Homo sapiens: one gene and its partner. The protein of the gene in region 1 purifies or fractionates together with the protein of each later gene. This does not show direct contact. Each region holds a gene or a part of one and is shown on either strand. Other genes may lie near its edges. The genes, in order: CCDC117 and CDK19.

Evidence for each region.
Region 2: the proteins of CCDC117 (region 1) and CDK19 purify together in Homo sapiens (co-immunoprecipitation; one large-scale study listed by IntAct). This does not show direct contact.

Annotation. Positions count from the first base shown.
Region 1 is NC_000022.11:28,786,195-28,789,694, forward strand, and holds the end of CCDC117 (coiled-coil domain-containing protein 117), read left to right. Parts: coding exon 1-132; 3' UTR 133-3,101; downstream 3,102-3,500. UniProt on the Homo sapiens protein: Facilitates DNA repair, cell cycle progression, and cell proliferation through its interaction with CIAO2B.
Region 2 is NC_000006.12:110,668,724-110,672,755, forward strand, and holds part of CDK19 (cyclin-dependent kinase 19), read right to left. Parts: intron 1,819-4,032; coding exon 1,708-1,818; intron 1-1,707.

The DNA of each region.
Region 1 (3,500 bases):
GCTAAGCATGTAGCTGCTGGCACTGCCTTCCCTCAGAGAACTGAACTGTTTTCGGAACCTCGGCCAACAGGGATGTCTCTTTATAATAGTTTGGAGACAGCTACTAGCACAGAAGAAGAGATGGAACTCTAGAAACCAATTTCTACACTAAAGTTGTCAAATGTTAGAAGAATCCTGTGTTCAGTTATGAGACTCTTTGCATAGTATAGGGACTTGAAAGTTTTATGAGACGGGTGTAATAATATCTCCACCTGTGATTTGGGGGTGGGACTCTTATTTTGGGTAGCCATTTATTGACTTCACCTTTTTGCCAAGGACGTTTGTCTCAAGGGAAAAGCAGTTTTCTGTGGGGCTTATTAAAGGAATGTTGGTTTACATTGTCTTCAAAGACAAGTATAGAAGCTGTATGTGTAAGGGTGACTTAAATCATATGTCACATTGTCTAAACTATTCAGACACTTGGAGAATATTCTCCTTGAATTAAAAAAGATGATTAAGAAGGATGCTCCTACAACTGTATCCTGACAGTTAAGTCACAGCTTAATGTGTAGATATGAGCTGTTTACAGTGGTGACTATATATAATTGGGGAGAAGAAGGGAAGAGAGCAGCAGTAGCTTAAGCCTGTTGCTAAGAAATTTAATTTCTTAGCAACTTGTAATTTAGTTATCAATTCAATATAGCTCTGTTGATTAAATAGCCGATAGTATTGTGGCTCTCCTCTTTGACTATGAAAATATAGAGAAAGTTTTTTCTTTAAGGCTTTTTTGCCTTGTGCCACTGTTGCTCCTTGGTTTCCCTTGCGTAATTGATAAGCCCAGTTATTCAGTAATGTTTACAAATTAATTGACTTTGATAGTTAAAAGATTATGAGGTAACCCATCTGCAATTTGCCTGTGGGAGAAGCATCCTTTAGTTCATCTTAAGGAAGTGCTTTATCAGCTAAACCCAACATTGATAACTTTGGTAATTTTTTTAAAAAGTTATACTTGTATTAGCAAGTTTTTTTTTTTTTCCCCCACCGCAACCTCCATCTCCCGGGTTCAAGCAATTCTCCTGCCTCACCCTCCCAAGTAGCTGGGATTACAGGTGCCCACCTCCACGCCCAGCTAATTTTTGTATTTTTAATAGAGACCGGTTTTGCCATGTTGGCCAGGCTGGTCTCGAACTCCTGACCTCAGGTGATCTGCCCACCCCAGCCTCCCAAAATGCTGGGATTACAGGCGTGAGCCACGGCACGCAGCCAGCAAGTTGTTTTTAAATGTTAATATAGAAAACAGTGAAGGATTAGCTGAAAATATATGAGCAGGTGACATTGAGGTTTACTGAAATAGCCAATTTGACTGGTGCTTAGACTATTGTGCAGTAAACCTAAAAGGTAGTGGAGAATTGCTTCCTGCTAGCAGGAAGCCTTCATCTTCTTGAGTACCCAAACCAGGCTTCAGGTGTCCTTTGAGGATAGCCAGGTTTGAAATTTTTAGTTTCTCAGGAAGAGCTCTTCTATGTGGCAGGGGCTGATAGGGCAAAATAAAATGACAATTTCTTTATTGCTACAGAGTATCCTCTATAAGTTATTAAACGAGTGTAATGGTATAATGCCCTTCCATCACACAACAGGACACCACCCCAGTTTTGTTTTCTGGGTTTCTTCCCCCTTTGTAGGAATCAGATACCTTTTGTAGAAAAAAATGGCTTATGCCACGTAAAGGTGAATTTTTAGAAACCACCTTCTAGGCGTTTTTGGAACCCTTACTGAAATCCCTCCCCTTGTTACAGATGGCGTAGAAGTCACAAGTCTGTTAATTGGACTGTTGCTTCTTTGCCTGTTCCTGCTTTCTCTTTCTGTCTGGATAGTCAGGAAAAGATTTAATGTTTAATATTTAAACAAAATATTTAATGTCTATACAGTAAAATTATTCAAACTTCAAACCAGTATTGAAAGCAGTTGGAAACCAGCTAATAGTTTCTTAATCTCAGATTTCGAGATGAATGTAAACTGTATTCTTTTGAAATGTGCAAGTGTTTGATTCATGCCATTTGATAAACTTCTGCCTTGTAGTCATTGTTTGATGGGACCAACTTGTAAAGTATGAGCCTTAAATAAATCTCCATGCTGAAAAATGTGTTCTAATGCAACACAAAAACATGAAGTGACTGCCCAGAGGTAGAGTTAGTGTTTAGGTGGAAAGGGAGATGACAGCTTTCCAAAGAAGGACCTAAAACACACCAAGATTGTCTTCTACAGGAATTGCTGGGCAGGTCTCCGACTAAAGGTCTTATGATGAAAAGGAAGAAACAAGCCCCCAACACAAGGCTCTGATACTACTGGTAAATGTAGGAGAGAATTAAGAATCTGTTAATTAAAATCCAAACAGAGCTTATTTCAGTAGTCAAGTTACCTGACATGATAATTATTTCTGCAGGATAATTGATGTTTTATGTTCTTTTTTGGACTTTATCTTCTTGCAAAAATTTCTACAAAAATTGTTTTCTTCATCCTTGTGGTGCTTATTCATCTGAGCCGTCTCCACAGTCCCAATGCCTCTGCTTTTTGTTTTACTTTTGTAGCATAAGGTTTTTGCTTTTGCTTTGCCTTAAGAGTTCCCTAGGGAGTTACCAGGGCTTTTCGTTTTGTGTAGCTTTTGCAGCATGGATCAAACATTGGCTTACTGTGCTAATGTGTGAAGAGAAAAAATTCTCTAAAGCAGGTGAGCTTTAATGAACAAATGTGTATTTTATCTGAGTTTGAGTAGGGTGCGTTGTGGATTTTGTTTTTTGGGTTTTTTTTTTTTTTTTGTAATTATATGAAGAAAGTCCAGTTCTCATAAATATTGATCACTTAAAAAACTTACTCTTTCTTGAAAAGGTACACATGTAAAATTTAGGAAAATAACTAAAGTAGGGGCTGGAACCATAAGAAGAATGTTTATCAGCACGTTCATTTATTATTTTGGATTTGGAACTTGGCTTTGTTTTTCAATAGTGACAAGAATGGTTCAGTTCTAGGAATGTTCTGGAAGATGCTGTTAATTTTACTTTAAAATGAGAATCTGGTGTTACTGTATTTTATCGTTTTCAATAAAACTTCTTAAGTGTTTTGGACTTTTGAGATATTTGTATTACTCCACTTAAATAATGAAATCAGATATCTCCTTTCCTCTGAATTGTAGTTGAAGCAGCATTCATATCAGTGAAGGACTTAAATTTATCCTGAAGGGATGATTATGTTGGGATAAAGCTAAGTATCATATTTGAATTAGCTGTTCCCACAATAGGCAGGCCATGTGTTGCTATTCTAAAACCCATAGACTGCTTTCCACTCAGAGCAGTTCACTGCTATTGTTAGTATTTAGATGGCAGTGGTAACTGTGTATTCAAAAATGTTAAAATGGGCTAGGTACGATGGTGCACACCTGTGCCAGCACTTTGTGAGACTGAGGCAGGAGGATCACTTAAGCTGAGGAGAGACCAGCCTGGACAATATTAGCAAGACCTTTTCTC
Region 2 (4,032 bases), on another chromosome or scaffold:
CAGGAGGCTGAGGCAGGAGAATCACTTGAACCCAGAAGGCGGAGGTTGCAGTGAGCTGAGATTGCATCACTGCACTCCAGCCTGGACAACAAAAGTGAAACTCCGTTTCAAAAAAAAAAAAAAAGAAACAGGTAAAATCAATGTGTGCACTTCAGATACTTCTGAAGTGAATTTTCTAAATATTACAAATACTATCTTCTCAGTAAAATGTCAGTTTATTGCTTAAGTTCTTTAAAATCAACATTTATGATTATATTTATTTTGAAATATGGTATTGGACAGTACAGTTCTACAGGATCTGACTATTCCAATGTACAACATCATCTTCTTTCATCACCCCACTGATGTTCAAAGTAAAGTACATACACTGTCCAGTAAGCCTTGGTTGACATATAGGGGAATATAGAAAAATGGAGAAAATACAATGTCTGTGAATATCCATGAAAAGAATTGAACAAAAAAAACACACTGGAAATTCTTGTCCATATCTGCTATAATAGCATACACTCTGAAAGTTTCTTTAAGACCTGAGTCTGTTAAAGTTATTCCTCAACAGATTTATAACTTATATAGATGACAAACCACATTATATTAAATCAAAATTTATTAGTCAGGTGTGGTCATGCACCTGTGGTCCCAGCTACTTGGAAGGCTGAGGCAGGAGGATCGCTTGAGCCCAGGAGGTCAAAGGTGCAGTGAACCATAACTGTGCCATTGCACTCCAGCCTGGGTGATAGAGCGAGACCCTGTCTCAAACAAACAAACAAACAAAAAAGGCTGGGTGTGATGGCTCATGCCTATAATCTCAACAGTTTGAGAGGCCAAAGTAGGAAAATCACTTGAGCCCAGGAGTTCAAGACCAGCTTGTGCAAGGTGGCAAGACCTTGTCTCTATAAAACATTTTTGAAAAATTAGCCAGGCATAGTGGTGCTAAATTAATTATCCATAATTTTAACTTAGTGCCAGATTTGAAGTTTGTTACTTTTAGCAGTTCCTCAGATAAAGTGTTTAAATGTTCTGATTCCTAATTTGAAAAGACAGGAATTAGAATTTTTTGCTTCTTTCATACGTTGATAAAAACATCCTTAAAGCAATCTTCACTATACATATTAGTAAACTGCCATTAATTACTTGCATAAAAGTATAGTCTCCCGCCAGGCATGGTGGCTCACGCCTGTAATTCCAGCACTTTGGGAGGCCGAGGTGAGCAGATTACCTGAGGTTGGGAGTTCGAGACCAGCCTGACCAACATGGAGAAACCCCGTCTCTACTAAAAATACAAAATTAGCCAGGCATGGTGGTGCATGCCTATAATCCCAGCTACTAAAGAGGCTGAGGCAGGAGAATCGCTTGAACCTGGGAGGCAGAGGTTGCAGTGAGCCAAGATCGTGCCACTGCACTCCAGCCTGGGCAACAAGAGCAAAACTCCCTTCCCCGTTCGTCTCCCCCGGGCCAAAAAAAGTATAGTCTCCCATTCATTAAAATCTTTCTGAAGTAAAATTTCTAAATATTACAAATACTATCTTCTCAGTAAAATGTGAGTTTATTGCTTAAATTCTTCAAAATCAACATTTATGTTTATATTGACTTTGAAATATGGCTAACAGAGCAAGCTTTCCTTTCTGTGCATTAACAATATGTATTTTATATAAATATGCTCCATACCTATATAAAACAATCCTAGAAATACAGTGAGATTATACTTACCCACAAGTCATGCTCTGCATAATCAAACAGCAGCCATACCTTCCTGTCACTGTGAGAAAGGAACACCTTCTGCAATGCAATCACATTAGGGTGCTTCAATTCTCGCAAAAGCTGAATGCAAAAGAAAGAGAGGGGTCACTGTTGTGTTAGCAAGGAGGGGGAAATGATGAATGTCTTATAACTTCAAAACGAAATTTCTGAAAATCTAGAGAATCCAGGTAAGCAAAATGAAAGAAAAAAATACCACCCAAAATACTGGCATTCAGAGATAAGCTCTGTCAATATCTTGGTGCATATCTTTCCAATCCTTTTTCTATGTGCTTAGGTATATCTGTTTTGTTTTGTTTTACTTTCTTTCTTGTCAGAGACTGCAAGCAGGAATGTGTTTTTAAAAATAGGATTTTAAATGGTAAAATGTAAAACAGCAAACAAAAGTAATATCATATCATTAAATAATTAATTACATTTTTGTACATGCATATCTTTTTTACTAAAGAAACTGTTCCTTGGGAGGCAGGACTCATGTATTAATACTGCTTATATCTACCCTAGCACTGTATTGGTGCTCAAGAAACAGGCGACAAAACAAGGAAAGATATTTAACAATCCCTGTACTTATCCATCCCTAGAGTATGTGGTTGAGGGTTTTTTTTTGAAGAGTAGTGAGTATAAGGGAATGACTGTCATGCCCACTTATAAAAACTGAAGTTGAGAACAGGTCCTGTAAACAGAAAAAAAGAAATAGGACTTCACAAAGTAAAAGCTTTAAGCTGGACTCTGACGATATGTAGGAAAGATAGACCAGAGCAGCAAGCAGAAACAGCACTTTGCGCATAACAGACAGCTGTTTGATAAAATATTTAGCAACAATGACATTATTGCTCAAGGTAAAAGCCTTAGAAATATGCCTCCCTCAGGCTGTCCTTAAACAGGGTTCAGATTTCACAGGTAAAGAGAAACATATTCAATTTAATAAATATTTTGAATACCTTTTAAATGTAAAGCTCTGTGAAAGATGCAAAAAGGGAAAGACAAAACTTCCCTTGAATATTTTATATGTGCAAGATGATTATATACAAATGTTTTTCTCTCACTTAATCTTTAGAACAATTTTATGATGCACACAGAACCCAAGGCTCAGTGTGATAAAAATAACATGACCAAAGTCAAATAGCTAGAAAGAGAAGGGGTTTGGACTTAAATAGATCTGCCTGATTGCAAAGTCCATGCTTTTTCCACTACAGCTAAAGTTCATGTCTTCAATTCCCACAATGTGGTAAGGAAGACAGACATATAAATAGATCAATGAGGCAGAGAAAAATAAACTGCTTACCCATTCTAATAACTTTAGTAACTTTTTTTTTTTAGACAGTGTCTTGCTCTGTTGCCCAGGCTGGAATGCAATGGCACAATCTCAGCTCACTGCAACCTCCGCCTCCAAGGTTCAAGCAATTCTCCTGCCTCAACCTCCTGAGTAGCTGGGATTACAGGTACGCACCACCATGCCCGGCTAATTTTTGTATTTTTAGTAGAGATAGGGTTTTACCATGTTGGCCAGGCTGGTCTCAAACTGCTGACCTCAAGTGATCTGCCCACCTTGGCCTCCCAAAATCTAGAGAGTTTGCCATTTTGAACACTTCAGGATCTCTGGCTCTGGCAAACCCTGTTTTTAATGACCCCATTGCTATGGCCAGCCTTGAAGCACTTACACTGTGGCAAGAGACTTCACCCCAGGCACAATGACTGTCTCCTTCTTTCTGACTCCTTGATATTGATGAACGTAGAGAGTTTGCCTTTATTACCTATGCAAAATATGTTCTCTTTGCAGCCTGAAGTAGATGGGAAAGTAGAACTCCACTTCCGCATCTAAACCAGGCTCTTGAAACACCCAACACTGGCACAGATCCCTGATTCCTGGACCTCACTTGTCTGGGAAAGTGGTTGTCACAGTAGCAATATTTAATCAACACTTCTAAAAAACTACATTTTCTGTGACTTCCAATTGTTGATCCCACTAGAATAAATTCATTTTAAGTCCTGTGTTAAAAAATTTGTTTTGACTAGATAATACATTCATATGGTTCAAAAATCAAAGTATATACAAGGTTATATATTGAAATGTCTCACTACCACTCCTCTTGCTTCCCTGGAGGTAACAACTTTTATTAATTGCTTATTTTCCTTGCAATGTTTCTTAATGCAAATAAAAACAAATATGAATATATATTTTATCCTCCATTGTTTACACAAAAGATAGCATAATATACACACTGTTCTGCACTTTGTTTGTTTTCTTACCCTTACTCTATCTTGGAAATCTCTTAA